Linked DNA regions of Homo sapiens: all the other regions are linked to region 1. Evidence: fine-mapped expression QTL. A gene starts in region 1. Each other region holds a variant in brackets. All regions are shown on one strand. Distances are between the middles of the regions. Region 1 holds the start of MRPL42 (mitochondrial ribosomal protein L42). Region 2 has its middle 44 kb from the start of SOCS2-AS1. Region 3 overlaps NUDT4 (nudix hydrolase 4).

What was found.
Region 2: its variant is fine-mapped to the expression of MRPL42 in neutrophils (BLUEPRINT, PIP 0.95). The same link has a PIP of 0.9 or more in esophagus muscle and monocytes.
Region 3: its variant is fine-mapped to the expression of MRPL42 in monocytes (Kim-Hellmuth 2017, PIP 0.90).

Annotation. Positions count from the first base shown.
Region 1 is chr12:93,462,879-93,473,503 of GRCh38, reverse strand. It overlaps MRPL42 (mitochondrial ribosomal protein L42), which reads right to left and starts at 5,990. Exons shown (of 6, transcript NM_014050.4): 1 at 5,950-5,990; 2 at 4,149-4,312. The coding sequence starts at 4,218. RefSeq lists enhancers at 5,769-6,038, 6,099-6,158.
Region 2 is chr12:93,522,521-93,533,145 of GRCh38, reverse strand. No RefSeq gene overlaps it. Among named protein-coding and RNA genes, the nearest start is that of SOCS2-AS1, 44 kb to the left of the region's middle. The variant T/C (reference allele first, on the strand shown) is at 5,053.
Region 3 is chr12:93,400,322-93,410,946 of GRCh38, reverse strand. It overlaps NUDT4 (nudix hydrolase 4), which reads right to left. Exons shown (of 5, transcript NM_019094.6): 5 at 2,801-10,625. It overlaps UBE2N (ubiquitin conjugating enzyme E2 N), which reads left to right. Exons shown (of 4, transcript NM_003348.4): 3 at 73-213; 4 at 868-5,263. The coding sequence ends at 908. Among named protein-coding and RNA genes, the nearest start is that of NUDT4, 28 kb to the right of the region's middle. The variant T/A (reference allele first, on the strand shown) is at 6,025.

The DNA.
Region 1 (10,625 bases):
GCCAAGATCATGCCATTGCACTCCAGCCTGGGCAACAAGAGTGAAACTCCATCTCAAAAATAAATAAATAAATAAATAACCAGACATGGTAGTACACATCTGTAGTCTTGCTTACTTGGGAGACTGAGATAGCAGGATCACCTGAGCCCAGGGAGGTCGAAGCTGCAGTGGGCCAAGACTGCACCACTGCACTCCAGCCTGGGCAACAGAGTGAGACTTCACCTTGAAAAAAAAATAAGGAAACATTCATTACCTGATATTTTACCAATGGAAGTAATTCTGGATATAGAAGTAGCAGAAGCTCTAAATATATAATTAGGACCAATGCCAAAGTTAACAGCAATTAAGCTCAATGTGCCAAAAGAATTTCAATTAACAATAATTTCTGTAATTTATGAGTTATTCTTGTTACATATATATATTTAATTGCATTTTGAAAGAGCTATGAAAGCTAAAAGTTGTCCCATCTTCAAATGCTCAGTATTTTACCTTGCTACAGAAAAGGAAGTACAGTAGAAAGTATACAGGACAAAGTAAGGTGGGAGATCCAGATTTTGGTCACAGTTTTTGTTTACCAAATATGTGACCCTGGGTGAACTTATGAGGGCCACAGAACTCAAGTTTCTTTACCTTCATAAAGAGGATAATACTACATGGGCTACCAAAATCAAAGCTGTTATAAGGATCAAATGGCTTAACATGCTTTGAAAACTGTGAAGTGTTCTACACTCCCGGGCTGACTGACCATTTGGGAAATTTTAAAATATTCCTTCTAGAATATAAGGAAGGCTTTTTATTTTTGCTCACTGAACTTTCTTCCTTAATCATGATTTCGCTTTGCCTCCAATCTTACTGTCCTTCCCTTTTTTATTAAACATCAATAATAACAGTAATGAAACTTTCTTTAATTTTAATTTTTTATTTTTGAGACAGGGTCTCACTCTGTCTCCCAGGCTGGAGTACAATGGCACAATCACAGCCTCGAACTCCTGGGCTCAAGCAATCTTCCTACCTCAGCCTCCTGAGTAAGCTGGCTCCCTCCTGGGACCACAGGCGTGTACCACCTCGCCCAGCTAATTTTTGTAACTTTTGTAGAAATGAGGTTTCCTATGTTGCCCAGCCTGGTCTCAAACTTCAGAGCCTGCTTCAGCCTGCCAAAGTGCTGGTATTACAGGTGTGAGCCACCCTGCCCAGCCCTTTACTTTCAATAATAGTAGCAACAGGAACTTTGCAGTATAAGGGACTTTTCGGATATAAGAAGTTAGGTCACTGAGTATTAGGATAACTGATAATGGAATGATTTTCTAGGGTAACCTAATTCTTAGTTAACTAGATATTTTGAGAGTTAACTCTAAACCATTCAGATTACTTGAACAAACACTGATAGATCTCCTATCATGAATGAGAGGCCCCAGGGACACCAAAATGAATTAGATCCAGTACAAACTTAGTGGGAAATCCAGTGGGGAAAAAGATATATAAATAATTTTCAATTATTCAGGGACACATTAACTGGTTTTCTGATGGGCCTGTGTGAGGACTAATTGTTTCAAAACATAGTCTATGTAAAAACTGATTGGATGTGACTTCTCATTAGCCTAGGAGCTGGGTTCCTGCAAGGCAAAGAGGAATCTAAGAAGTAAGAGTAAGGGTCTTTCTCCCAATTCTCAACAACAAAAATGCTCCTAGATAATCAAAAGCTGATTGCAGTTTTGTTGTGACTTATTTTGGTTTATATCCAAAGTCTCTTAAGCAATGTCCTGTTCTATTTACTGAATTCTAAGTTGATTTTACTTTGAATATAATGTAATAAATGTTTCTATGTTTAGGGCCCTAAAAAATGGGAGAGTGGGGCAAGCAAGGAAGCAGGGATGGAAAGCTTCCTATAAGAGCAGGATTTGGTGGCCAGGTGCGGTGGCTCATGCCTATAATCCCAGCACTCTCGGAGGCTGAGGTGGGCAGATCACTTGAGGTCAGGAGTTTGAGACCAGTTTTGGCCAACATGGTGAAACCCCTCCCCTGCTAAAAATACAAAAATTAGGCCAGGCGCAATGGCTCACACCTGTAATCTCAGCACTTCGGGAGGCCAAGGCAGGAGGATCATTTAAGGTTGGGAGTTCGAGACCAGCCTGGCCAACATGGTGAAACTTTACCTCTACTAAAAATACAAATATTAACCAGGCCTGGTGGTAGGTGCCTATAATCCCAGCTACTCGGGAGGCTGAGGCAGGAGAATCACTTGAACCTGGGAGGCAGAAGTTGCAGTGTGCCAAGATCATGCCTCTGCACTCCAGCCTGGGAGCAAGATCCAGTCTCAAAAAATAAAATAAAATAAAATAGAGTAGGATCTGGCAAACTTTTGAGCATTCTATTCAACAAAGGTGTTTACTGAGTAAAATATTTTCCTCGTCTCAAGCATAACAAATTGCCTATTTATTACTTTACTTATACTCCATTCTTCAAATAGCTCTTTTCTCCCTAATTCAATAAGCAAACTTTCAATTACAAATGGTGGTAAATAGGAAATAAGAAAGAAGAGACAAAGGTCAAGGTCAAGCAGAGTTGTATTTAAAAAGTCAGCTGCACTTGCATGTTTATCAGAGCACTATTCACAATAGCGAAGACATGGAAACAAGCCCATCAATGGTGGACTGGAAGAATATGTGGTGTATATGCATACCATGGATTATTACACAGACATTAAAACAAATAAAATCATGTCCTTTACAGCAACACAGATGCAGCTGGAGGCCATTATCCTAAGTGAATTAATGCAAAAACAGCCAAATACTACATGTTCTAACTTACAAGTAGGAGGTAAACATTGGGTACATATGGACACAAAGATGGGAACAATAAACACTGGGGACTCAAAACAGAATGGAGGGATGGAGGGAAGAGTTGAAAAACTACCTATTGGGTACTATGTTCACTATTTGGGTGACGGGTTCAGTTGAAGCCCAAACCTCAGTATATGTAATACATCCACGTAACAAACCTGCACATGTACGCCCGAATCTAAAATAAAAAATAAAAATAAAAAGTTGGCTCACATAGTTTAATATAAAAAGGCAAACCTACTGTTGCCTTCTATACATGTCTACTTTAGAAATGGAAAGCTTCCTATAAGAGCTGTTTATAAGAGCTATAAACTCTGTTTACAGACAGGAAAAGGAAAAAGAAAGCACAGTTGGCTGAGAAAAAAGACTTTAATACTCTATTTACTTATTTGGGTCCATGCTTTGACTGTCAAACATGTATTAACAAGCTTTCGAGAAAATACTAACTATATACAGTTCTTTAGAAAAGAAAGGCAGAAATTACATTTCATTTTTTTAAAAATGGCTAGGTACATAGAAAAAACACAATGACAATCCACCAAAATATTAACAATGATTATCTTTGGAAGATGGGACTGTGAATTTACCCTTTATTCGCACATTTTAAGAAATACTAAAAAAGTAATCACGCCACTGCACTCCAGCCTGGGCGACAGAGCCAGACTCCGTTAAAAAAAAAAAAAAGAGAGAAATACTAAAAAAGTAATACATGTAATCGAACAAGAGAAAGTTACCCTTGACCAGTCCCTTACTCCTGCCCTCAGCCAAATCCCAAGAGTGGGCTACACAGATAACCACTGTTTGGTCCAGACCTTTTACCTCTGCATTTATGCATATGCACACATGCATATGATGGATCATCTTTTAAACATACAAATAAGATCATATGATAGATATATATAGATGTGGTTCTGACATGCTTTTTTTGTTTCTATTTGGAGATCTTTCCATGTCAGTAACAGCTACATGACAGTCACAGTTCAGATGTACCATAATTTATCCATTCCCCTCCCCAACCCACATTTTTTTTTAGAGGTGGGGGTCTTGCTATGTTGCCCAGGCTGGTCTCAAACCCCTGGCCTCAAGCAATCCTCCCACCTCAGCCTCCCAAAGTGCTGGGATTACAGGCATGAGACACCACATCTGACCTATCCATTCCCCTTCTGACTGACATTTAGGTTTTCTCCCACTTTCCATTGCTGCAAACACTCCTGCAAATTACAGGCATATACAATAACTAAATGCTTTAAATTTTCTTAATTCTTAAAAGTTTAAAAGTTTTTAAACATTAAAAAAAATTTCACTTACTTTGGACTGGAAATAAATGTTTCAAGATAGTTCTCTTTGACATCACCCATTTTACTGCAGCTACAGCCATGGTGTTTCAAGATGCTTATCAAGTGGTATGAAAAAAGATGTTCTGAAGAGAAACTGCTTTTAGAATCTGCTTCTAAGCATACCAATTTCTACTCCTGCTGAAGAGATAAAGAAAAATCAGTGCTACCTATGGTAAATTTAAGTTATATTAAACACCACAAGAACAAGGTAAGAATCACTGCCTAGAAGTCAACTGAAGCAATGCTTTTAAACAACTTGGCAATTCCACATGATTGAACAACAGGACGAAGAGCGACATGGACAGAATATAAGATCAGAACCACTGGAACTATGTCCATTACTATTTATCTTAGATACAAACTTCTCTGCAGGACCCAGTGCAGCTCCTTCCACTTAATGAATACTCAGTAAATGTGTAATTACTCTTGAAACAGTCACTCACAAATGGTACACAGAGTATTCATTCTTTTAATGCTAGTGTGGCTGTGTACACCCTCCAAGGTTCCATACACAAGATACTACATCATTTACAGTACTATCCTGTTTCTGATTAAATGAAATAGTTGTCTGCCCTGAGCCATTAATAATAATAATAATAATAAAGAAATATCAAACAAGGCCTATCCTTAGCCTATTACTCAATTGGAGGAACTCATAAATGCCCTCAAGTCCCAGATAAAATTTCACCATCTTATATGTGTACAAAGTCTTTAACTTTCCAACGTACTTTCACCACCATTTCATTTTGCTCTCGTATTAATCATGTGAGGTATCTTTATTCTGATTCATGAAGAAACTAAAGTACAAAATTTAAACGTCTTGCTTCCAAGGACTTTAGAGTCAGTCACTGCCAAATTGGGAAACTTTAAACAAGTCATTAACTAAACGATCCTCAGTTTCTCCAATGACAAAATGGGGAAAACCACAATCTTCATGGCCTGTTGTGAATAAATGACAAATAACCATTGTTAAATCTTGTTTTTAATAGTCTTCAATGAGTATCCGTGCCCTTCCCCCCAATAGTGATAAAAGAGAATTAGGACACAGGCCCTCTTATTTGCTAGTCTAAACCACTCACACTGATACCTTGCACTGCCAGTACATTAACACCGTTAACCCTGAGCTCATAGGTGTGCTTTTTAGTTTACAACCCACTTTCATATACAATATGTGCTCTGACTTTCACAAGTGTGTGAAGCAGCATCTCCATTTCAGATTAAGAACAAAGGCTCAGAGAGGTCAATCGATTACTTGCTCAGTATATCGCTGCTTAATACATGCGTGGGACGTAAACCCATGACTTCTGACCACGAATAAAACATCTTGGGGGAAATTAGGTCCCCTCTGTCCGAAGCCCAGAGAAAAGCACGCCCTGCTGGGAGTCAGATTATTCACCCCAGGAAGATCATTTCAGAGATCAAGTCCCTCAGCCCGGAATTCAACCCCAAAACAAAAGCTACAGAGCCTCTGAGGGTCAGAGGTTTGAGGAACAGGCTACCAAGAGCACCAGAACTCTTCGACCTAAAGGAGTCCCTAGAGCCACAAGCTGCATCACCTCCCCACGGGCGTCCGCCAGGGAACAAAGGGGGCGCTATAAGAAACGCGCAGCCACATGCCGGCTCTTCTGCAGGAAGGACAAAGGCTGGGGATGCAGGCAACCTCGCCCTGCCGGGAACGACAGGCGGGAGACCTCTACAACTGCCGACCAACACTGTGGGACTGCCCAGTTTCGAGGAAGTCCTCGACAGGAGGAGTAGAGGGAAGCGGTTACCTTGACGGCTTCTCACCACGAACCCGCCATCTTGTTTCAATCCTGGTCCCACGAAACAGCGCTGCGCGCGCCGTCCCAGCCCGCGGGGCATTCTGGGAAATGTAGTCTCCGCGGGAAAGCGGCCCGGGTGCAGAGAGAAAGGGAGGATTGTTGCTATGGACTTTTACCTTTAGTTGGGGAAGCGTGGCCGCAGTGTTACTAAGGTGCCCAGAAAAACAAAATCACTGCCCCAAACACATACCCTTAGAAAGTAACAAGCTTTTTTTTTTTTTTTTTTTTGTGAGGCAGTCTCATTCTGTCACCCAGACTGGAGTGCAATGGCTCCCTCACGGCTCACTGCAGCCTCTACCTCCTGGGCCCAAGAGAGCCTCCCACCTCAGCCTCCTGAGTAGCTGGTACTACAGGCGCACACCACCACACCCAGCTAATTTTTTAATATTTTTGTAGAGACGAGGTCTCGGTATGTTGCCCAGGCTTGTCTCAAGCAATCCTCCTGCCTCGGCGTCCCAAAGTGCTGGAATTACAGGCATGAGCCACCATGCAAACCTATAAGTACTTTTTAAAAAAATTATGTTAATATTCAGAGAAATCGTAGATTGCTCTTTAGTAGATGAGTTAAAGTTTCCCAGGGGAAGAGACATTCCAGAGAAGCCCTGAAATGTGGAGGCTAGGATTTGGACGTTTGAAATCAGAACCTGAAGAGAACCTCCACTCTGAAAACCTGGCACTGTGCCCTCAGAACTGTGCTGGCTACCTATTATGGGAGGAAGTAAATATGCAGAATCTTGGACCTCGCTTTCCATCTTAGGAGGAAGGAAAGACCTCTGGGCCTTTGCACTCTCTGTTCCCATTGCCAGCAATGTGCTTCTCTGACCTCTTCTCATGACCTTACAGGTCTTTCTCAAATATCATCTTAGAAAGGACCACACCATTAAAATAGCCTCACCCACCCTTATTCCATGCCCCGCTTTATTTTCCTTCAGAATATTTACCATTACCTGACTTTATATTGATTATTTGTTTGCTCGTTGAATGTCTCTTTCTTTTTTTTTTTTTTTTTGAGACGGAGTCTTGCTCTATCGCCCAGGCCGGAGTGCAGTGGCATGATCTCAGCTCACTGCAACCTCCGCCTCTCAGCTTCAAGCGATTCTCCTGCCTCAGCTTCCTAATTAGCTGGGATTACAGGTGGCCACCACCACGCCCAGCTAATTTCTGTATTTTTAGTAGAGATGGGGTTTCGCCATGTTTGCCCGGCTGATCTCGAACTCCTTACCTCAGGTGATATGCCCACCTCGGCCTCTCAAAGGGCTGGATTACAGGCGTGAGCCACCACACCCAACCTCGTTTAATGTCTCTTATGCTGGATAATGTAAGCTCCTTGAAGACAGAGACATATGTCTATCTTGTTCTTCACTGTATGCAAACCCAGCATCTCAGACTGTGCTTGGTCTCATTATAGGTCTCCAGGAAGTGTTTGCTGAATGAATGAAAAGACTAGATAACGCTGCAAGTATCCAAGACAGTAGATGATTGGCTGGTAAAGCAGAAGCGGTCGCCTGGAAATTCCCTTCTCCCATGATTTGCAAAATTTTGCTTTTGTATATTTTTCTAAGAAATAATCTATAGCTTTTATTATGTATTCCAGGGAATTGATAAACCCCTCAACAAGTTAAGAACCATATTCCTGAAGTGACTAGTATTGAAAGTAAGTGAACACACATCACATAGTAAAGAAAACTAAATACGGGCTGTGTAGTGTGTCTCCTCATTTCCCACGGAATATCAGGAGGCTAATCTTTGCTCTTATAGAAGCCCACAGAGGGCCCATCTGTGTCCTTTCCAGTCGTGTCCATCCTCCAAAGCCACCCATGATGTCTTTCTGGACTGTGCAATAGGAAGGGACAGAGAGGAGAAACAGATTTGAATGAGCAGTCAACTGGACTGGTTGAACATTCCCTGCGTAAAGTGTAAGAAGAATGGATCAAAGATAATTCCAGAGGTCAAGTCTTGATGGCTGTGAGCAGAGTGGGACCAGTCCCCAACAGGGAGACTCACTTAGTGGGACCAAGGAAGGTCTCACAAAGCTGAGACCAGAAAAGAAACCAACATTTTTGGGGGAAGAGAGGGGAGAGACAGGTTTAGGCTGAGTGAGGGAACAACTTACACAAAGGTTTAATGTGGTGGAAATAGCTTACCATATACTGGAGTAGGGTGGATAGTGTGGATGAGAGCGGCAGGAGATGAGATTTGGAGCCAGGTCATGTTGGGCTTCATAAGCCTTGGAGGGGTTAACATGGAGTTAGGACACAGGACATATGTAGAGATTAAATAGAGTAGGTGGTGCTGTGTGCCTGTAGTCCTAGTTACCCTGGGAATGGGAGGCTGAAGTGGGAGGATTGCTTGAGCCCAGGAGGTCAAGGCGGTAGTAAGCTATGATCGTGCCGTGCACTCCAGCCTGGGTGACAGAGTGAGCCCTGTCTCTTGAGATTTTTACATGAAAGAAGTGACATAATTTGATTTCCATTTTTAAAAGGTTACTCTGGCTGCCCTGGGAGGAGTGGTTTGGAGAGTGGCAAGACCGCAGGCAAGTCTAGCAAGGAAGCTACTGCAGTACTGCAGTCAAGAAATCATGTGATGGAGGGTGGTGGCAGTGGAGATGGAGAGACAGGAAGAGTCCAGATGTATTTTGAAATTGGAAGTGATGACTTAACTTGCTGATGGATTGATTGAGAGGGAGGAAGATACTTCAGGTGATGCTTTGATGACTAGTTGACAGTGGTGCCCTTCATAAGACAAGGAAGACTGAAAGAGGAACAGGTTTGGGGAGTCTGATGATGGTGGAAATGCATACTTCCGTTTGGGAGTTGTTGAGTTTGAGATGGCTCTGAGACACTCCAGTGGAGATACAAAACAAGTCAGCAGCCTGGGCAATATAGTGAGTGAGGCCTTGTCTCTACAAAAAATAAACAGAATTAGTAAGGTTGATGATGCACACCTGTGATCCCAGCTACTAAGGAGGCTGAGGTAGGAGGATCGTTTGAGCCCTGGAGGTTGAGGCTGCAGTGAGCTATGGTCATGCCACTGCACTCCAGCCTGAGTAACAGAGTGAGAGCCCCATCTCCAAAAAAACAAAAAACAAAAGGCAGGTACTTGAAGAGGTGTGTTTGGAGAGTAGAGGTTGGACTAGGTATAGAAAAAAAAAGATAAAGGGCCTAGAAGCTGGCCCCAGGGAATTCGAAGGCTTAGAAATCAGATGGAGGAGGATAACCTTTAGCAAGGGCCTCCCAGGAGTGGCAGTGAGAAAGGTAGAAGGAAAACAAATACTGTGATGTAAGAGTAGTTAAGAGAGGCCATGTCACAAAGTGTTCCTAACTTAAGAGGTCAGTGCTAGCAACTTAAAAAGTATAATTTCCAAAAATACAAACTTGAAATACCAGCAAATAACTTATATTGGCCTACATAAAAGTGCTTTATTTTATTTTATTTATTTATTTTTTTAAGACGGAGTCTTGCTCTGTCACCCAGGCTGGAGTACAGTGATGTGATCTCGGCTCACTGCAACCTCCACCTCCTGGGTACGAGTGATTCTCCTGCCTCAGCCTCCTGAGTAGCTGGGATTACAGGTGCCCACCACAATGCGCAGCTAATTTTTGTATTTTTAGTAGAGACGGAGTTTCACCATGTTGGCCAGACTGGTCTCGATCTCCTGACCTCAAGTGATCCGCCCACCTCAAGTGATCCGCACACTTCACCCTCCCAAAGTGCTGGGATTATAGGCATGAGCCACTGTGCTCAGCTACAAATGCTTTAAATTCATGCTAGTAAAATGACAAACAGACAAAATTCTAGAACTTTGGAATTGGCATCAAATGGCTTCCATTTAAAAGAGGATTGCCTTTTCTTCTGTAACTTCCCAGAAAAAAAAGTCATTCTTTGTATCAATCAGAGAGCAAAGACTCCAGAGCAATCTTATGACCAAACTATTAGGAATGATCTTTCTGGCTGGGCACAGTGGCTCACACCTATAATCTCAACACTTTGGGAGGCCAAGGCAGGCGGATCACAAGGTCAGGAGTTCCAGACCAGCCTGACCAACATGGTGAAACCCCGTCTCTACTAAAAATACAAAAATTAGCCGGGCGTGGTGGCACACGCCTGTAATTCCAGCTACTCAGTAGGCTGAGGCAGAAGAATCACTTGTACCTGGGAGGCAGAGGTTGCAGTGAACCGAGATCACACCACTGCACTCCAGCCTGGGCGACAGAGTAAAACTCTGTCTCAAGAAAAAAAAAAAAAAAAGGAATGAACTTTCTAAACACTTAAACAATTATTGTTACTGTCATTTTACAAACAGAAGTAACAGAGGCACAGAGAGGTTTGAACAACTTGTTCAAAGTCACACAAGTTACTGTGCTTTGAACCCAGGAACTACTATTACCAGTGCTCGTGAACTTAACCACTGTGCTAGGCTGAGCCATGCTTATTTCAAAATACAAAATATAGATTAGACTAGGTGCTGTGGAGTGCACCTGTAATCCCGGCTACTCAAGAGACTGAGTGAGGAGGATTGACTGAGCCAATGAGTTCAAAACCAGCCTGAGCAACACAGCAAGATCCCATCTCAACAACAAATAAAACATATTTTAAAAAAATGAATGCAGATTTTAAAAACAAAA
Region 2 (10,625 bases), 60 kb before region 1:
AGATGTTAGTAAGAGACAAATAGTCCTTCTCTGGGGGTACTTGGTGGGCTAACTATCTGGACTAAAATGGTAACTATCTCCAGACTCACAGCCAGTCCCAGAGGATGTGCCTCTGCCTTGTGGAAGATGTGGCAGAGAGTGGGTTCTTAGTAACTGCACTAGTTCCCAAGGGCTGCTATAACAAAGTACCACAGATTGAGTGGCTTCAACAACAGAAAAATACTTTGTCATAGTCCCGGAGGCTAGAAGTCTGAGATCGAGTTGTTGGCAGCATTGATTTCTTCTGAGTTCTCTCTCCTTGGTTTGCAGATGGCTGCCTTCTCCCGTGTCCTCATCTCCCCTTCTTATAAGGACACCAGTCATGTTGCATCAGGGCCCACCCCAATGACCTCATTTAACCTTAATACCAATTTAAAGACCCTGATATGGCTCAGCTGTGTCCCCACCCAAATCTCATCTTGAATTGTAGCTCCCATAATTCCCACCTGTTGTGAGACAGGCCCCATGGGAGATACTTGAATCATGGGGGGAGTTTCCCCCATACTGTTCTCATGGTATTGAATAAGTCTCACGAGATCTGGTGGTTTTATAAGGGGGAACCCCTTTCACTTGGTTCTGATTCTGTCTTGTCTGCTGTGATGTAAGATGTGCCTTTCGCCTTCCTCCGTGATTGTGAGGCCTTCCCCAGCCATGTGGAACTGTGAGTCCATTAAACCTCTTTTTCTTTATAAATTACCCAGTCTTAGGTATGTCTTTATCAGCAGCATAAAAATGGACTAATACAGACCCCACCTCTAAATACAGTCACATTCTGAGGTACTGGGTGTTGAGTTAGGACTTCAAGATATGACTTTGAGAGCAGCAGGAGAACACAATTCAGCCCATTACAGTAATGAATGAATGAACCTGTGAAGATTTCACATGCCACCACTTGAAAGAGTCAGCTCTCAAGAGTCACCATCACCTCCGGGAGAAGATGGGGCCAGGCGGTCATAAACCCTCATCCACTGCAGTGGGTTAAATTGTGGCATAAAAAGACATAAAAAGATATGTCCATGCCCTAACACCTTTCACCTGAGAATATGACCTAACATCCTGGTTAGAGTGGGCCCTAAATCCAGTGGTAAGTATCACCATAAAAGAGACATGACCAGGCATAGTAGCTCACACCTGTAACCCCAGCACTTTGGGAGGCCAAGGCAGGAGGATTGCTTTAGCCCAGGAGTTCAAAATGAGCCTGGGTAACATAGTGAGACCCCCAATCTCTACTAAAAATTGAAAATTCAGCCAGGCGTTGTGGCACATGCCTGTGGTCCTAGCTACTTGGGGGGCTGAGGCAGGAGGATTGTCTGAGCCTTGGAAGTCAAGGCTACAGTAAGCCATGATAGGGCCACTGCACTCCAGCCTGGGCAACAGAGCACCCTGACTCAAAAAAAAAAAAGAAAAGAAAAGAAAAAAAAAAAACTTGAAGAGAAGGGAGAAGACACATGGAGAAGGGGCTGTGCAGATGGAGGTAGAGATCAGAGGGATGCGCCTATGAGCTAAGGAACGCCAAGGATGGCGGCAGCCTCCAGAAGACAGGAGCCAGACGTGGAACGGACTCTCCCTGCACCCTGCAGAGGAAGCCAGTCCTGCCGACGCCTTGAGTTTGGACTTTTGGCCTCAGAACTGTGAGACAATAAATTTCCGGGGTTTTGGGCCACCGGTTTGTGGTAATTTGTTACAGCAGTCACAGAAACCTAGCACCTCTACTTCCATTAAAGGGAAGGGAGACCGTGTTCAGGAGATCTGACCTAGGATAGAGAAAGCGAGACACTTCAAAGCTTCATCAGGACAGGTCTGGTTGCTTGAAAAATAGTCCAGTTACCAGCCTAGCCAATCTGAAGATAGTTAGCGTTTTGGCACAGATCAGGGGCCCCCAACCCCCCGGCTGTGGACCAGTACCCGTCCATGGCCTGCTAGAAACCAGACCACACAGCAGGAATTGAGCGGCCGGTGAGCGATCATTACCACCTGAGCATGGCTTCCTATCAGATCAGTGGCGCCACTACATTCTCACGGGAGCACGAACCCTATTGTGAACTGAACATGTGAGGGATCTAGGTTGCCCGCTCCTTATGAAAATCTAATGTGTGATGATCTGAGGTGAAACAATTTCATCCCCAAACCATCCCCAACCCCAGTCTGTGGAAAAATGATCTTCCATGATATAGGTCCCTGGTGCCAAAAAGGTTGGGGACCGCTGGCACAGATACTTAGCCCACTAAATATCCCCAAAATAGAACTCTCTCTTATACCAGGCCTGTTTATTTAGTACCTTGAGGTTGCAGGCATTCTCTCTCTGGCAGATTAAGGACAGAATTTCCTTGTATAATAATAATTTCTTAAATGTTTACTTTCACTGAAGGGTTTCTTTCCCAGAAAGTTTGAAATTAATTTGCTTCGTAATTTCTGGCAACAAATACCGATAGCAAATTTCTTTCCTGGCTTTTGTAATCCCAATGACATCACGGAACCTCCGTCACTGTGGGAAATCGTTCTTCTAGGTAGCTGTGATGATATCACTTGCTATGAAGGAAAGGAAAAAAAAAAAGAAACAACAGGAAATTCTGCATTCAGCTGTTAACTGATAAATGAAGGAGGAAATGGTTTTGAAAGTAAGTTCCCATAACTAAGCAGCCTTCTCCATTACTTAGCTTTATTTATTTAATGTATTTATTTGCACAATCTCACTGGTAGTACAAGTCCCTAGTCAAAAAGGCTTTTCACTCCCAGCAAATTAGGGAACATAGGCCAGAGCCCCTCACTTTGGGGGACCCCTGTTCACACAGAGGATCTAAAAAAAGATCTGGGCAAAGAACAAAAAGAAAGAGAGGGAAAGGAGGAGGAAGAGGAAAGGAGGAAAGGGAAGGGGGAAGGGAATAAGATGAAATGAAATACAGATACCAATAAACATTTGACCTAGGTAACCTCACTAATTGTATTAGACAAGGTTCTCCAGAGAAGCAGAACCCATAGGATGGGTGTGTGTGTGTGTATGTATATGTATGTGTGCATGTGTAATTATATATAAAGAGACATTTAGATTAGTTTAGCTAATGATCACCCAGGGAAGCATAAAGGTGAGATCTCAGAAAATCTGGAAAAGGAGCAAAATTGTGGAAGCAGATCCACCTGGCAAGCTGTTCATAGGTGGCCTTAATACAGAACCTAATGAAAAGGCTCTTTAAGCAGTATTTGGGAAATATGGCCACATAGCAGAAGTTCTTTTGATGAAGGATGGGAAAATCAAGTCCAGAGACTTTGCATTGATTACTTTTGAGAGCCCTGCAGATGCTAAGAATGCTGCCAACGATATGAAGGGAAAGTCTTTGGATGGAAAAGCAATTCAAGTAGAGCAAGCCAACGAACCATCTTTTGAAAGTGGTGTTAGGTGGAGACCACCATCTCCTTCGAGAAACAGAGGCCCTCCAAGATGTCTGAGATGTGGAAGAAAAGGTAGTGGAGGAGCAAAAGGGCATCCCTCAGGTGGAGGACACATGGATGATGGCGGATACACTCTTAATGCCAACATGAGTTCTTCTAGGACAGGGGTCCCCAGCCTTTTGGGCACCAGGGGCCAGTTTCATGAAAGACAATTTTTCTATAGACCAGGGGTCGGGGGGGATGGTTTCGGGATGAAACTGTTCCACCTCAGATCATCAGGTATTAGATTCTCATAAGGAGCACAAAACCTACCCATATTATGGAGGTAATCTGCTTTACTCAAAGTCTACTGATTTAAATATTGTTTTGTTTTGTTCGAGACAGGGTCTCATTGTGTTGCCCAGACCGGAATGCAGTAGCACAGTTATGGCTCACTGCAGACTCAACCTCCAAGGTGCAATTGATCCTCCCACCTCAGCCTCCCAAGTAGCTGGGACTACAGGTACACATCACCAAGCCTGGCTAATTTTCTTTTCTTTCCTTTTTTTTGTAGAGACAAGGTTTTGTCATGTCGCCCAGGCTGGTCTTCAACTTCTGGGCTCAAGGGATCCTCTCCCCTAGGCCTCCCAAAGTGCTGGGATTACAGGCATGATCCACCGTACCCAGCCTAAATTTAAGTCGCATCTAAAAAGATACCATCACAGCAACGTCTAGACTGGTGTTTGACCAAAAACTGGGTACCAGAGCCTAGCCAAATGGACACATAAAATTAGCCATCAAGCTAATAATAAAAATAGCAAGTATGATTGACAATAAGCTATTTTTTACCCAGCAGGTTTACAGGGATTAAAAAAGAATCTCACTCAGTTTTGTTAAGGAATAAGAGGACACTTGTGTACCATTGTGGGCCTACAGACATCAACTTTTCTGAGGGCATTTTGACAGTATCAAAATGGAAAGTGCGTATACCTTTTGAGAAATAAAAATAAAATTCTTTTTTTTTTCTCTTTTTTTTTTTTTTTTTTTTTTTGAGATGGAGTCTTGCTCTGTCACCCAGGCTGGAGTGCAGTGGTGTGATCTCAGCTCACTGCAACCTCCACCTCCCGGTTCAAGTGATTCTCCTGCCTCCGCCTCCTGGGTAGTTGGGACTACAGGTGCCCACTGCCACGCCTGGCTGTTTTGTGTGTGTGTGTGTGTGTGTGTGTGTGTATTTTAGTTGAGATGGGGTTTTACCATGTTGCCCAGGCTGCTCTTGAACTCCTGAGCTCAGGCAATCTGCCCACCTCAGCCTCCCAAAGTACTAGTATTACAGGCATGAGCCTCTGCGCCTGGCCTTTATTTTAACTCCTGACCTCAGGTGATCCACCTACCTCTGCCTCCCAAAGTGCTGGGATTACAGACATGAGCCACTGCACCTGATCATGCATTTTAACAAATAAGTCCTTTCTCTCTGACTTTTCTTCCATCACAATCTTCCTCGTGTCAGAGAACTCTGGAGTGCCCCTGGACACTATGGAATCTGGCTTGGGGATACGCGAAGTCGGGTGTAGTGGATGTGTGTATGTGTTTAGTAATCACTGCCATGTCGTCTTGTTATTGTACAGATGGTCCCCAACTTATGATTTT[T/C]TGACTTTACAATGGTGCAAAAGTGGTACACACTCAGTAGAAATCATACTTGGCATTTTGAATTGGGATCTTTTCCTGGGCTAGCAATATTCAATAGTACTCTCAAGATGCTGAACAGTGGTATCAACCACAGCTGCCAGCCAGCCATGAGATCAGGAGGGTAAACAACTGATACTGTACTCTACAATGTACTGTATTCAGTACGTTACATGAGATGTTCTACACTTTATTATAAAACACGCTTGTGTTTGATGATTTTGTCCAACTGTAGGCTCATGTAAGTGTCCTGAGCACAGTTAAGGTAGGCTGGGCTGAGCTATGATATTCAGTAGGTTAGGTGCATTTCCTTTTTGTTCCCTCTTTTTTTTTTTTTTTTAGAGACAGGGTCTCACTTTGTTGCCCAGGCTGGAGTGCCATCATGCCATCATAGCTCACTGCAGTCTCTACTTCCCAGGCTCAAGCGATCCTCCCCCCTCCATCTCCCAAGTAGCTAGGACTACAGGCATGTGCCACCATGCTTGGCTAATTTTTAAATTTTTTTGTAGAGACAGGGTCTCATTATGTTGCCCAGGCTGATCTAGAACTCCTGGGCTCAAGCAATCCTCCCACCTTGGCCTCTCAAAATGCTGGGATTACAGGCATGAGCCACCATACCTGGCTATATTTCTGACTTAGGATATTTTCAATTTATGGTAGGTATATCAGGATGCAATTCCATCTAAGTTGAGGAGCATCTGTATTTGTACCTAAAATTGTATTCTTTATTCAAGAGGGTTTCCAAAATTATAACATTTCCCCAGTCTCCTCAAAGCTAGGTCTGCCCACACACTGAGGCACAATGTCATTTGCTTCAGACTCATGTCTCTATCCCCCAGAGTAATCTTGGACTTTGATGGCTTTGTCCTGATCTTAGTTTTATAGCATTGTACTTGTAGGTTGGCCCCTAATTTCCAATTAAGTGCAGCCCTTAGCTCAGAGTATGGCTTCTAACCCACACTTCTTTGTTCATTTTCTTTTTATACCTCTCTCCACCATTCCTCTGCGTACACACACACACACACACATACACACACACACACTCTTAAGTATCAAAGGCTGGAGTGCAGATTGGCCGTGAGTCATTCTTTAAAAATGAGCTTGAATGGACAAGGCAAACAATTTTCAGGAATGCCCACAGTTGCCTGTCTTTATTTTAGAGGACTAGAGTAGGAAATCAGGCAGGTGGTCTGTCTTTGAATCGAGGCTGTTTAATGAGACAGAAATATTTCCAACTCTTCACCTAACAAAACAGTGAACGAATAAAATTCTCTTAAATTAGGAAAGATCCTCAAACCAAAATCTCAGAAAAAAATTTTAGCACACACAAAGTGCTCTAGAACTATTATTAACAGAAGCTCATTTTAGATGAAAGCACACCCATTACTGCATATGGACTCTATTTCCATCTAAAATGTCCTGAAGGAGAGTTTCTTCCATGGACCCATATTCAAGATCAAGTTTTTTGTTGTTTATTTTGGGGGAGGAGAAGGAGTTGTTTTCATCTTTCCTTCTTCCATTCAATGCTTTTCCAGGAGTGTTAATATCATCTATGTTGTTGTTGTTGTTATTTTATGTTAACCTTCATTTCTCTGCTAGATTTTTAAATCATTTTCTGTTTTAATTATAAAAGCAATCCAGGCCGGGTGCAGTGGCTCACGCCTGTAATGCCAGCACTTTAGGAGGTTGAGTCAGGAGGATAGCTTAAACCCAGGAGTTTGAGGCCAACCTGGGCAACACAGTGGGACACCATCTCTACAAAAAAATAAAAAAAATAGCCAGGCACAGTGGCACGCACTCAGGAGGCTGAAGCAGGAGGATCCTTTGAGCCTGGGAGGTTGAGGTTGCAGTGAGCACCACTGCACACCAGCCTGAGTGACAGAGCGAGTCCCTGTCTCAAAAAATAATAATAATTGCTCCTCGGCCTTTTGGCTAAGATCAAGTACAAAAGAATAATAATAAATATTTTTAAATAAAAAGCAATCCATCACCTGTACCCCCCACAACTTTCTAACGTGTATTATCACCTTTGACTTCCTCAAATCCTCTTCAAGAATCACCCATCCCTATTTCAAGACTGGCGGACATCATTCTATTCCTTTTATAGGGCTTTGCTGTTTCCTAAAACACTTTCATTTTCTGGTGGCAATAAAAGTAGTCTGGTGGTGATACAAACTAATGTTGTTTTCTTTAACACTTACAGCTCATCTGTAGGATCACTTCGATTTGCACTCTTTTTGCAAAGGCAAAACATCTAAAGAAGAGACAGTATCCATACACTTGTCTACTCATTATTATCATTCGAGACAGACAAAACGCCCACCTGGGGAGGAAATTCCCCATGAAAAAGACAGAGTCATGTGAAGGTATGTAAGATTATATTAATCATCTTTATTACTGCATGTATTGGGATTTTGGGGGGATGCATAGCAAAACGCATCCCCGAATAGCCTTGCTCACAGTAACAACACGTTGTTAAATGTGCCTTTCGACTCAGCACCCCCATGTGGCCACTCAGACAGTAAAAATGCCCCATGGTTGTGCATTTCCACGTGGGAAACAAATTTTATTGATGGAAGAACATTATGGCCCCTAATTTTTCTTTTCTTTTTTTTTTTTTTTTTTTTTTTGAGACGGAGTTTTACTCTTATCGCCCAGGCTGGATACAATGGCACATTCTCGACTCACTGCAACCTCTGCCTCTGGGGTTCACGTGATTCTCCTGCCTCAACCTCCGGAGTAGCTGGGATTACAGGCACCCGCCACCACACCTGGCTAGTTTTTTTTGTAGTTTTAGTAGAGACTGGGTTTCACCATGTTGGCCAGGCTGGTCTCAAACTCCTGACCTCAGGTGATCCACCTGCCTCGGCCTCCCAAAGTGCTGGGATTACAGGCGTGCGCCATTGCACCCAGCGTCTGGAACAACTTCTACCAAGAAACAGTCCCACTTTCTAAGAAACGCAGTGCCATCTTGAGAATGCCCCCAGTACCCGGTTGTTCCAGAAGACAAACCAAGGGGAAAAAATACCAGGAGCAAATCTCTTGGCCTCCTTCAAGGTGAAATATTTGCTAACTGTGTTGCCTTGTTGTCTTATTTGGATTGGAAGCCCGTTTAGCAGGAATTTGGTTTACATAATGGTTTAGGACAAGAATGATCAAGATTGAAGTTTAAGCTTTTCTCTTTCCTGGAAGCCAGGTAGCCTGAACGTAACTGATTGCCTCGTCTTTTCCCCTCTTGCTGTGTCCAGGTCATGAAAAAATCCATGATGAGGGCACAGAGGGTTTCTTCTCTGGGTGACCAAATGAGACTTCACCAAAGTAGAGAAAAAAATTCGCCATGGGGTATAGGGCAGTCATCATTCATGCATCCCACAATGGTTTGTTGAGTGATTAGTATGTGCCAGAAGCTAGGCTAGGCACTGCGTGAATAAAACAAACACAACATCTGCCCTAGTGACGCTTGCTGTTGCACGAGAAGCAAACATTAAACAAATACTCATACATGTCAATATAAAGCCACAGTCTTGGTAAGTGCTAGGACATCAAGCACACAGAGCTGGGAATGCCTATGATAAGGGGCTTTACCTTAATGTTGCCAGCGTTTAGATCTGAAGGATGAGTCAAGGTTAACAGGAAGAGAGGGAGGGAAGCATGTTCTGGGCAGAGGGAAGAACATATACATAGAGGCTGAAATTCAGAGTTAAGGGAAGGGGCAAGTGTGCAGGACGCCTCCAGAGAAGTGGTCAGGACCATGTGGGGCCTTAGGTTTGAGTCTTCATCCTAAAAACAATGGGTCTTTAGACTATCAAAGGCCCTATGATTTGGTGAGTATTTACCTGAGAGAAACGAAAACTCATATCCACAAAGGACTTGAAGACAAATATTCATAGCAGGCTTAAAATAGCTCCAAGCTAGAACCAACCCAAATGTCAATCAACAGGAGAGTGGATAAATAAATTGCCATAGGCTGGGCATAGTGGCTCACCCCTGAAATCCCAGCACCTTGGGAGACTGAGGTGGGTGGATCGCCTGAGGTCAGGAATTTGAGACCAGCCTGCCAATATGGTGAAACCCCATCTCTACTAAAAATACAAAATTAGCCAGGCATGGTGACACGTGCCTGTTGTCCCAGCTACTAAGGAGGCTGGGGGCAGGATAATTCACTTGAACCCAAGACGAGGAGGTTGCAGTGAGCCTAGACCATGCCACTGCACTCCAGCCTGGGTGTCACAGCAAGACTCTGTCTCAAAAAAAAAAAAAAAGCTATATATTCATATAGAGCATCCACACTCAGCATTTAAAAGGAATAGACTTAGCCAGGCGCAATAGCTCACACCTGTAATCCCAGCATTTTGGGAGACCAAGGTGGGTGGATCACCTGAGGTTAGGAGTTCGAGACCAGCCTGACCAACATGGAGAAACCCCCATCTCCACTAAAAATACAAAATTAGCCGGGCTTGGTGGCACATGCCTGTAATCTCAGCTACTCGGAAGGCTGAGCCAGGAGAATCACTTGAACCCAGGAGGCGGAGGTTGTGGTGAGCTTGCGCCACTGCATTCCAGCCTAGGCAACAACAGCAAAACTCCATATAAATAAATAAATTAAACAGACTACTGATCACACGCCACCACAGGAAAATTTCAGAAAGATTATGTGCAGTAAAATTAACCTGACACAAAAAAGTCTATGTTGTATGACTGTATGAAATCCAAAAATAGACAAAACAAATCTATGGTGACAAAAATCAGAAACTGGTTTCCTCTTTGGGTAGCAGGTAAGAAGAGGGTGAAATGGCAGGAAATGGGGAGCAAGGGAACTTTCTGAGATGATGGTATAGTCTATTATCTTGTTTAGGGTGGTGGTTTCACAGGTATATCAAAACTCATCAAACTGTACTGAAGATCTGTGCATTTTATTATTTGTCTATATCAAAAAGTTTTTAAAAAGTTAAATACACATGCTAAAGTGTTGAAAGCACAGAAATGACACCAGATTTGCACCGCAAAAAGAGCACCCTGATTTTGGTCTAGAGAAAGATTAGAAAGGGCTAGAATGGAAGTGGATAGACCAGTTTCTCTCCTTTATGTGAATGACCTAGGAGCCAGTATACCCTTGAGCGTTAATGAATGTCAGCCCCTCGCCTGAATTTAATATAGAAGATTTCAGACTTCACCTGGCTGACTCCCCAGGAACCATTCAAAACAGCTGTCAATGGACAGGGGCATTTAGCTGGAGAAAAAAGGCTGGGAAGCTGGGGTAAGACAACTAAGGAAGCCACAGGAAAAAAAGACAGATTGAACCAAACCTCTATTATATAGACTCTTTCAAGGCAGGATTAATCATATTTGTTTTTAATATTTCAAATCTGTCAAATATCTCCTTGGGTTCTTTTCCTCACAGCTACAATTTCCTTCTGAAATTAAGAAATCTAGCAGACCAGGCTGGGCACAGTGGCTCACCCTTATAATCCCAGCACTTTGGGAGGCCAAGGCAGGCAGATCACTTGAGGTCAGGAGTTTGAGACCAACCTGGCCAA
Region 3 (10,625 bases), 63 kb after region 1:
TGGGAGGGAAGTGAAGCAGTTCTGGGCCTGTTTTTTTCATGCTTTATCATACTGGGCCTGTTGCCTTCATAGATAAGTGGTCCCCAGCACTGCAGATCCGCACAGTTCTGCTATCGATCCAGGCCTTGTTAAGTGCTCCCAATCCAGATGATCCATTAGCAAATGATGTAGCGGAGCAGTGGAAGACCAACGAAGCCCAAGCCATAGAAACAGGTATCTAATATTCATTCTCCTTCACACCACTTCCACTTTTACAAATTTGTATTACCACTTAAACTTTTCTAAAGCTCTTGGCAAGGAAAAGAAATAGAAAAAAGTATAATAAGTGAGATCCTGCTTATAGTATGTAAATACGTCTTAACAAAATGGCTTGCTATGGGACCCCCCAAATATAAAGACAACCTGTAATTGAAAGATCTTGGAGTCTCTTGTAACTACACCTGGTTTAACAAATACTGAGTGCATACCATTTATCTAGTTATATGTAAAGAATACTGGAAAACTTGAACTGTTTTTGTAACCCATTTGATTAAAGTATTCAGCTGTTTATGGCTACGGAATTTGGAGTCAAGAAGCTTCTGCTACAGATTTTAAGAAAATTAGTGGGGAGAATTGTGTATCTAGAAATGGACAACTTGATTCATCCTCTTGAATTTTCTAGAACTTCTTAATTTTATTGTAGTGTTTTGGTAATTGGACATTTACAAAATCTTTCAGCCCTGATCCAATTTATAGAAAAAGGCGTGAATTTAACAGATTACAGCATGACATTTCCATAATTAATAGTGGTTGTTTGCCATTTATAGTTTGGAAAGTAACATATTGAACTAAGTAAAATAATAATCGTATGTTTGTTTCTGTCTACAGCTAGAGCATGGACTAGGCTATATGCCATGAATAATATTTAAATTGATACGATCATCAAGTGTGCATCACTTCTCCTGTTCTGCCAAGACTTCCTCCTCTTTGTTTGCATTTAATGGACACAGTCTTAGAAACATTACAGAATAAAAAAGCCCAGACATCTTCAGTCCTTTGGTGATTAAATGCACATTAGCAAATCTATGTCTTGTCCTGATTCACTGTCATAAAGCATGAGCAGAGGCTAGAAGTATCATCTGGATTGTTGTGAAACGTTTAAAAGCAGTGGCCCCTCCCTGCTTTTATTCATTTCCCCCATCCTGGTTTAAGTATAAAGCACTGTGAATGAAGGTAGTTGTCAGGTTAGCTGCAGGGGTGTGGGTGTTTTTATTTTATTTTATTTTATTTTATTTTTGAGGGGGGAGGTAGTTTAATTTTATGGGCTCCTTTCCCCCTTTTTTGGTGATCTAATTGCATTGGTTAAAAGCAGCTAACCAGGTCTTTAGAATATGCTCTAGCCAAGTCTAACTTTATTTAGACGCTGTAGATGGACAAGCTTGATTGTTGGAACCAAAATGGGAACATTAAACAAACATCACAGCCCTCACTAATAACATTGCTGTCAAGTGTAGATTCCCCCCTTCAAAAAAAGCTTGTGACCATTTTGTATGGCTTGTCTGGAAACTTCTGTAAATCTTATGTTTTAGTAAAATATTTTTTGTTATTCTACTTTGCCTTTGTACAGTTTATTTTACTGTGTTTATTTCATTTTCCCAATTTGACAATCGTATTTTAAAATTGAAACTGATGGAACATTCTTTCTTGGTCTTCACCATCTGACAAATTGAATGGCAAGAGGTGGATTTTGCCAGTTTCTTTTCACTGATGCAGATTTGTGTTAAGATAGTACTGAATGGAGTATTTATAAACTGGCCCTGAGCATGCATAAAGCATCAGTATCTGACCTTTTTTTAACCTTCTAGGAATTTGAAATAAATGTGTTTGTGTTGTCTGATTAGATGATCATTGGTGTCTTGCCACAATGTTTAAAAATTACTGTACAGGAAAGTCACAGCAAAGATAGCAGTTGTGACTGACATGTAGGACTTTCACAGTTGTGCCACATTTTTGCCTAAAATTTGGGTTATGACATTTTTCTTGGTTCTTATCTGAAAATTTCATCTGTAACCTTTCATGTGTGTTAAGAAACACTGATCTGATCATTTGGGATTTGCTGAGGCATTTGTGAGTCTTCCTTATAAACCTGATGAGCAGATCTCAACTATCTAGCTTGTGTGTCATCAGAAAGGTTTATCCCTTTGAGAGTATCAAGTCCTCAGTTAATGATTCTTGCTTTCATCCCTCCAGTATTTGCTGTGGGAGCTCGTTTTATTCTTTAATTTGGAATTCAGTAATTTTTCTTCTTTATTGACGAATTCCTCCCCTCACAAAACTGTTCTTTCCCACCTCTCTCCATATCTAATTCCTGATTCTTGTTATTTTTAAGTCATAAATGTAGCCAGTCATAAATACATAAATGTTAACCTTCGGGTTGCAACCTTGTCTCTTGCAGTTTAAGGTAATGGATATTGTAGCCCATTTGAATTTTCTTCACTCTTATTCTCGTAATTCTGGAGTTTCTTCAGATTGTGGTGTATTTTATTGTGCTCCTATGTAAGATGAAGAATTAACTATTAAAATTACATTTTCAACATACAAAAGCTTTTGATGACTGGTAACTGGTATCCTTCCAAATAAATGCATTGCTTGGTAACAAATGTTAGCTTAATTCAGAATGAAATAGTTAACAACCCTAATATTGTAAAATTTGAAAACTGATAGCAGCTGTCATTTATAACAATTCTTGGGCTGTTTAAAGGGTACATTTGACTATAGCTAAGGAAATTGAATCTCACTTTAAAAATGAACCACACAAAACTTCAAGAAACGAAATAGAAATCAACATTTACTGCCCGTAATATTGCTCATGGTTATAGCTAGTATCACATAGTGATTTACAAACCATGAAATTCCAGATTTAAATCTGTTGCACTACAAAAATGTCTAAATGATGTCTGCTAAATTTGTGAGTTATAGAAGTACAGAAATAAGTCATTTTCATTTCAAATGCAGTGAATTTCTAATTTCATGGTATCATATTTTTTTCCTTTGCAGTTTTGGTAAGACTCCCCCATTACTTTGCTAAGACTTGCTTTCTCAACCAGTGGGATGAAACGAGTGCCAGTGTGTTGACTGAGCCTTCTTAGGACTTAAGGGGCTCTGGGAGAGGCCAAGGCAGCAGTTGAAAACTGCAGCTTCACCTGGCCTTTGGGCCTGTTTTCCCTGGCCCACACAGTGTGGCTGGTTAAAACATTCTGAATTTGATGCCAACATTTTTAAAAATTGGGAGATTTGCATGAAAATCCAGAATTCGGGTAACTTTTGAATGATCTGAAGATCTGGCAACAGTAGACCTGACCCACCTTTGTGCACGGGACTTAACTGAGAGGATCTGAGTAGCAGACACCCTAAGAGCATGTCATTGTCTTCTCACCAGTTACTCTCCAGTTGGCTAGAGTCCCCTCCGAGCACACCTGCTAGTCCTTCCCCCTTGTAAGCCTTTGACTTTGTAATCCCTGGGCTAAAGGAAACACATTATTCAACAAAAGTGTTTCATGTTTGCCCACTAGTTGTTGGGGATGATTAGGTGGTGAGTGAATGGCATGGGGCTTTCCTTTGGGGACCATATACTCTAATGGGGAAGGGGGACAGACAAATAGTTGTAACTCTGTCATGGAAAAGAGAAGTAACTTGGACAGACTTTTGGATTCAGGCCAGATGAACATCTCCAGGCAGAGGGAACAGCAGCATCTGCAAAGTCCTGGGAGAGAAGAAAAGAATCTGAACATTAAGTGGCTTCCTGAAAATCGACTGCCCAGGCCGGGCACAGTGGCTCATGCCTGTAATCCCAGCACTTTAGGAGGCCAAGGCAGGAGGATCACTTGAGTCCAGGAGTTTGTGACCAGCCTGGCTAACATAGTGGGACCCAGTCTTTATTTAAAAGAAAATTGCCCGTTAAGAGGCTTTTCTAAAATCTTGAGGTGTTGATAGGAGCTTTATGTTTTTTGACTTGATTGTTGTAGTCTACTTCGCTGCGATTTGCTTCTGCTCTAGTTATCCTTCATCCTCTCAAAGGCTGTCTAGCAAGATCTTAGGTCTAAAGTAAAGTCATCTCTTGGTATTTGTCGGGAACTGGTTCTAGGACTTCCTTTGGATATCCAAATTCGCAGATGCTCAAGTCTCTGGAATAAAATGATGTTGTATATGCATACAATCTACACAAATCCTCCCGCTTATGTTAATATTTAGATTACTTATAATACCTATTATAATGTAAGTGCTATGTAAATAGTTACACTATTGTTTAAGGAATAATGACAAAAATATACATGTTGACTACAGACACAATGTTTTTTGGAATATTTTGTCTGGTTGTTTGAATCCACGGAAGTGGAACCCATGGATATGGAGGGCCAACTATATAGAACCTTACTCTAGACCAAGAATGTACTTGTAAAACAATTTCAAAGAAGCACTTAAAAATAAGATTAAATACAAACCAACAGATAAAAGTCACAGGTGCTATGGTTGTTTGATGGAGAATGGGGAAGGAAATCTGTCCTAAAAGACATTATAAACACAGTGACCTAAGTGGAACTAAATTGGATCGAGGAAATGATAGGAATAGGCCTCATTTTTCTGTTGAATGGTTCAGGAACCTTTTTTTTTTTTTTTTTTTTTTTTTTTTTTGGCTGCTCTAGCCACTTTCTAGCTCTGTAGTTTAGGCTGGAGTGCTGTGGCATGATCTTGGCTCACTGCAGGTTCTGCCTCCCGCGTTCAAGCGATTCTCCTGCCTCAGCCTCCTGAGGAGCTGGGACTACAGACACCTGCCACCACACCTGGCTAATTTTTTGTATTTTTAGTAGAGACGGGGTTTCACCATGTTGGGCCAGGATGGTCTCCATCTCCTGACCTCGTGATCTGCCCGCCTCGGCCTCCCAAAGTGCTGGGATTACAGGCGTGAGCCACCGTGCCCAGCCCTGCCACATCTTTTTTGTTAGTTGCAGTAGCAATACAACCTTATCTAGAAAAGCTGGCCAAAAAAGAAAATACCATGATAATAGGGTACCTAATTTATTGCTTTATTTAAGAAAAATGTAATATTTCATTCGAATAAGTACTTTTGGGCTGGGATGATATTTCATTTAGCTACTTGGCATGCCACCCATCTTAGGGAATTATATGAGGGTTTATACTTTAAATAACATAAAAAGCAAAACATGCTGAATGTAATAATTTGAGAGAAGTGTAAATAATAAAAATCTGTCATCTACCACCTGGACTAGTAATATATTGTTTGTTTTCTTAACTATACACTCACCCCTGCACTCATCTCCATTTTATCGTGGAAGTCAGGTATATTCCAAGAGTTGGCTTTATGGTACTAACTTGCCATTAGCTGCCATGCTGGGAGCTGGACTAAAATTTTTCCTCTTGTGTGGAATCCAATATTAAGAGTTCGGGTCTCCCCGGCCCTCTCCCAGTTTCATCTTGTCACCCTTGAGCTGATCTCATTTCATGTGTCTTGTATGGCCCTGCTGGGTGGCACTGGTAAGTGTATGAACATAGACTTGATACCAACCTCTGTCTCTACTACTGAATTGATCACATGATTTTTCTTTCTCAGTTTTATTTTTAAAGACTCCTGATCCATCTTACCATATGACTGCTTTTGAAATAGTTCCATGATGTAGATTAGTAAATATCGATAGTTCTTAAGTTTTATTATAACCTAGTAAGTTTACAAAGTCTCCTGGCTTAAGGTCGGGAGTAGATATCAGATCTGGCAAAAGCAGCTTAGATGTGATAGGCTGATTGCACTAGATTGAACTTGGTGCTGTTTCTCTTAGGTTTTAACAGGACACATCAGGACTGAGCAACCAAGTAAGTCCAAGTTATTACAATTCATGTTGTTTTTTTCTCCTAAAACAGTAAATATTTCGGCCTTTGTGGACCATAGGTCTGTCTCAACTACTGAATTCTGCCATTGTAGTGAGAAAGCACCCACAGACGATTTGTAAACAAATGGGCATAGTATTTTTT[T/A]TAAAAAAAAAAAAACCTAAAACATTAAAAAAATTTTAAACTTGTTGGCCGTACAAACAGGCAGTGGGGTGGGGTTTGGCCTGTAGGTTGTAGTTCTCTGCCCTGCTCATGTCTATTTCCCAAAACATTTTTTAAACCATACAGGCGTTTAAAAACAAAATCTACAATCTGTACAACCTCATTTTAAGTGACTAAGCTTTTTCAGTGTATGCCAATACATGCATAAAACAGGTAGTTCTGTCTAGTAGTGTTCTGCCTTTTTCAATCACTATTGAAAGGACTCCCTGTGGCAGCACATAGCTCTTTGGTAACCACAAAGTATCCAGTAAATAGATTGCCATGACTTAATCACATTTGAATATTAAATTGGTACCAGTTTCATAAATCCTACAACACACATATTTGACCATAGCTTGGTTGTGCAACTTGTCCATTTGTTGACTAGACTCCCAGGAGTGGAACTGTTGGGTGAAAGGGTATGTATGCAGCTGTGATAAAATACTACTCAGTAGCTCTCCGACAGGCTGTATCAGTTTCCACTCAGATCCTTACGCAAATGTCATTTCTAATGACTGTAATATTACACCATATGGATATATTGCAAGTTAACCATTACAAATCCTTTGCTGCTGAGCATTTTATTTTAATGGCTTTTCACTCTAGTGCCTTGTCTTGGTATATGTCTTTGTCCACATTCCCGTAGATACGTTGAATTCCTAGTATATTTACTTCGTCAATAGGCATGTTTCTTAAGGTTGATAAATAATGATGGCCAAATGAAAGTACTTCACTAACATGAATTTGAGGAAAAGTTGAGAAAAGCAGGAAAATTTACTTCCATTGTCTGATACTGATTAGCATCAGGAGAGTGGGAGTCTACATATTGGGAGATGTTTGTCAAATGTTACAAAAATGCATTAAGAGTAATACCGGGTTATCAGAATTTGCTGAAATCATATCAAGGTGGAAGAATTAGAGAATAGTTCCCTGGCTAGAAGACGTTGAACCTTTGAGTGTTTAGGTCTTTGCTATAATGTCTTGCTTGCTAAGATAGGCCTTAATGGCCCTCTCATCGTACTGCTAGAATTTAGCCAGTGGCACCAGTCAGGAAGGTATTAAAGTAGCACCAGCGATAGATTACTTTTCATCCTGACTTTTGTCCTAGAGCTCCATAAAATGTGCATTTGGTGGGGGAAATCACGTCTACAAATAAAATTGTATTGCTTTTGAAGATGGTATAAGTCTATAGATAAAAAAGCTGTAAAACCTTGAAAAATACTGAAGGATGTAAAAACACCAAGATAGGCCAGGTGCGGTGGTTCACGCCCATAATCCCAGCACTTAGGGAGGCCGAGGCAGGCGGATCACGAGGTCAGGAGTTTGAGACCAGCCTGGCCAATATGGTGAAACCCCGTCTCTACTAAAAATACAAAAAAATTAGCCGGGCGTGGTGGCAGGCGCCTGTGATCCCAGCTCCTCGGGAGGATGAGGCAGGAGAATCGCTTGAACCTGGCAGGCGGAGGTTACAGTAAGCTGAGATTGCACCACTGCACTCCAGCCTGGGCGACAGTGTGAGATGCTGTCTCAAAAAAACAAACAAAAAAGCCAAAACTACACCAAGATAAATCACTTATCTCTACCCCACTAGAATATAAGCTCTTTGAGATTAGAAAATTGTTTTGTGCTCTTATCACAAATACTAGGCATAAAGAAGATGCTTATTATTGAACAGCAAATGCTTAAAAAGACCTGCAGGCCAGACGAGGTGGCTCATGCCAATCATCCTAGCACTTTGAGAAGGCTGAGGCTGGAGGACTGCTTAAGCCTAGGAGTTTGAGACCAGCCTGGGCAACACAGCAAGACCCCATCTCTACCAAAAAAAAAAAAAAATTAAAGAGTCCTATAGAGAATTCTTATACTCCAATGTGAAGACAACATTGGAAAGGGCCAAGTTTCTCATGCCCTCCAACTAAGAAACCCCTAATAAAAAATGAAGTGACACTTGAACAGGACTTAAGGATTCTACAGTTGGTCTTTGGCAGCAGTATGTTTTAGGAAATGTAATGCGGCGGGTGGGGCGGTGACTTAGCCAGTTATGCTTTTAAATGGAACTGCAATAATAAAAGTGATACTAGTGCAGAAAGTATCTGTATTAGAATTCTAGAGTAAGTCAAGAGCTCACATTCATTAAAATAATGACACAACTCCACGGGGGTGGGGAGAACAGCAGTAAAGCAACCACATACTATACTATTAGACTGGCAACATTGAGACTGAAAATATCCATGAGGAGAATACTGACATCTTAGTGGTAAGCATTTCCTTTTAACCCGGTAATTCCAGTAGTAAGGATCATACAAATGTACCGCTAGGAAGAGGTAACGTATATGATCATCAATGGGAGAACAGTAAAGGTGTTACTGTGGAATTCCCGACAGGCTTTCACTTGGAGGGGGAATATTTGAACACAAGTTTAAACAACCCAGGGTAAGCACACAATGCACTATGCACTGAAAGGTATACGTTTCCGCTGGGTGTTTATACATTTCAAAGTTAAAAGCATACACCTTACCCAAAGTTTCAGAAACCTGGTTTGCAAATCTGAGTTCATGTGTGTGTGTTTTTGTTTTTTTTTTAAAGCCATGATCATTTTTTCCATTTTTATTTGATGTTTCCAAATATAAAAAAGTCAGGATTCTTACATCAATTATCTCAAATGAGACCATGCAAAGCAATTCAGTGTATACAACAATCATTTTTCCCCTTCAGTTCTGCTGCTTTATACAACAGTGTGATTGACAGAAAATTGGATGGCATGTGCCTGGTCAGAAAATGTCATCTGTTTACAAAATAACATCATGCAGCACAGTTTCTACTTTGTCTGCAAGTCAATTCACAAAAACTACTTATTTTCTGTTTTTTATTTGGGAGGCACATGGAACTGAAAAATTTAGCTGCCCAATTTTATTCAACTACCCCACCAAAAAAAAAAAAAAAAAATCACAAATGACAGTCCCAACACTCTGCAAATTTTGGAGGGTTGAGATAGTAGACACTATTTGTCATACTCAGCAGAGTTAACTATTTAACAGAAATAAATCTCCCTAGGGCCTTTCCTCTCATTTTGCTAGACTGGGTTCCAGGAGAATCGTGAAGAACCCCTCATGTAAAATTTGAAGTGTGAAAACTGTGTTGTTGCATTATGCAGATTTTTGCTAGTTGCATAGACTAAAGACGTTTTGCTAAATGGCACTGAAAATCCTTACCGAGTGTCACTATTCAGTCCAAGTGTTTCTGACCAAAGAAAATTATACAACAATATTTATAGGCTAACTTTAAAGAGATGGTTGACGTTAATACTGTACATATTTTACATGTCAAATACATAGTCCAAGAGTTTATAAAATAAATTCATGCATCATTACCTTATTACCTCTAAGAATATCATGTACAAGATGGGCACTCCCCCACCCCCCCAGTACTTATGACAGCATTTCAGGTGGAAGCAGTCTTATATACAAAAACAATCCAGTTTCTCTGCTATGTTAAGTATATAATTTAAGGAAATTTCAGAGATTACTGACCAAAAAAATCTTAGTCCATTGAAGATAGAAAGTGTCAATTTGTGGGATTTAAAATGTTTCCTTTATAAAAGAACACCCAGAATATGTAACCTCTGTACAAAGAAAAAAATATAAAAATTCTGGATGATCATGTTTGATCACACTACGTACTTGAAATGTTGCTGGTTAAAAGTTTTTCTGCTTTACTCATTCCTTTGACAGCATTAATTTGTGAACATTTATATTCAGTTCAGCTGTATTTATGGCACAAGATCTCATTTCCAAAATGGCACTAATTTTCCTTAAGTGTAACAGCACTCTATTTTTAGCAGTAATTATATTTTTAAAGGTTAATTTGTAGAACAAATGTTTTAACTATACTTTTTTTCTACTCTATACTCCCCAGTTACAATATTTACAAAGGGCTGAAGTCTATATAAAAAAATGATCTTTGGCTGGGCATGGTGGCTCATGCCTGTAATCCCAGCACTTTGGGAGGTCGAGGCAGGCGGATCACGAGGTTAGGAGTTTGAGACCAGCCTGACCAACATGAAGAAACCCTGTCTCTACTAAAAATACAAAATTAGCCAGGCATGGAGGCAGGCGCCTGTAATCCCAACTACTCGGGAGGCTGAGGCAGGAGAATCGCTTGAACCCGGGAGGCGGAGGTTGCGGTGAGTTGAGATTGTGCCATTGCACTCCAGCCTGGGTGACAAAGCGAGTCTCAAAAAAAAAAAAACATCTTTTACTTTCCCCCATCCCTCATTTTAGTCAAACTTCTCCCACCTCATTTCTGCCCTGGTTGGGGAAGTGCAAGAGTTTCAGATAAGGTACCTATGTGTTTTAGATGGGATTCTTGATTTTAAGTGAGTATAAAGTAAAAGATTTAATTCTTAGTTCAGGTATGTTCCAGTGCCTCGAAAGTTAGTTATGTGACAAATAGTACCTGTTGACAACCTAGAAAAGATGAGACATTCTAAGGTGCCCTAACAATCTTCAGTCTCTAACAGCTGAACAGGAAGGCCATTTCACTCAACT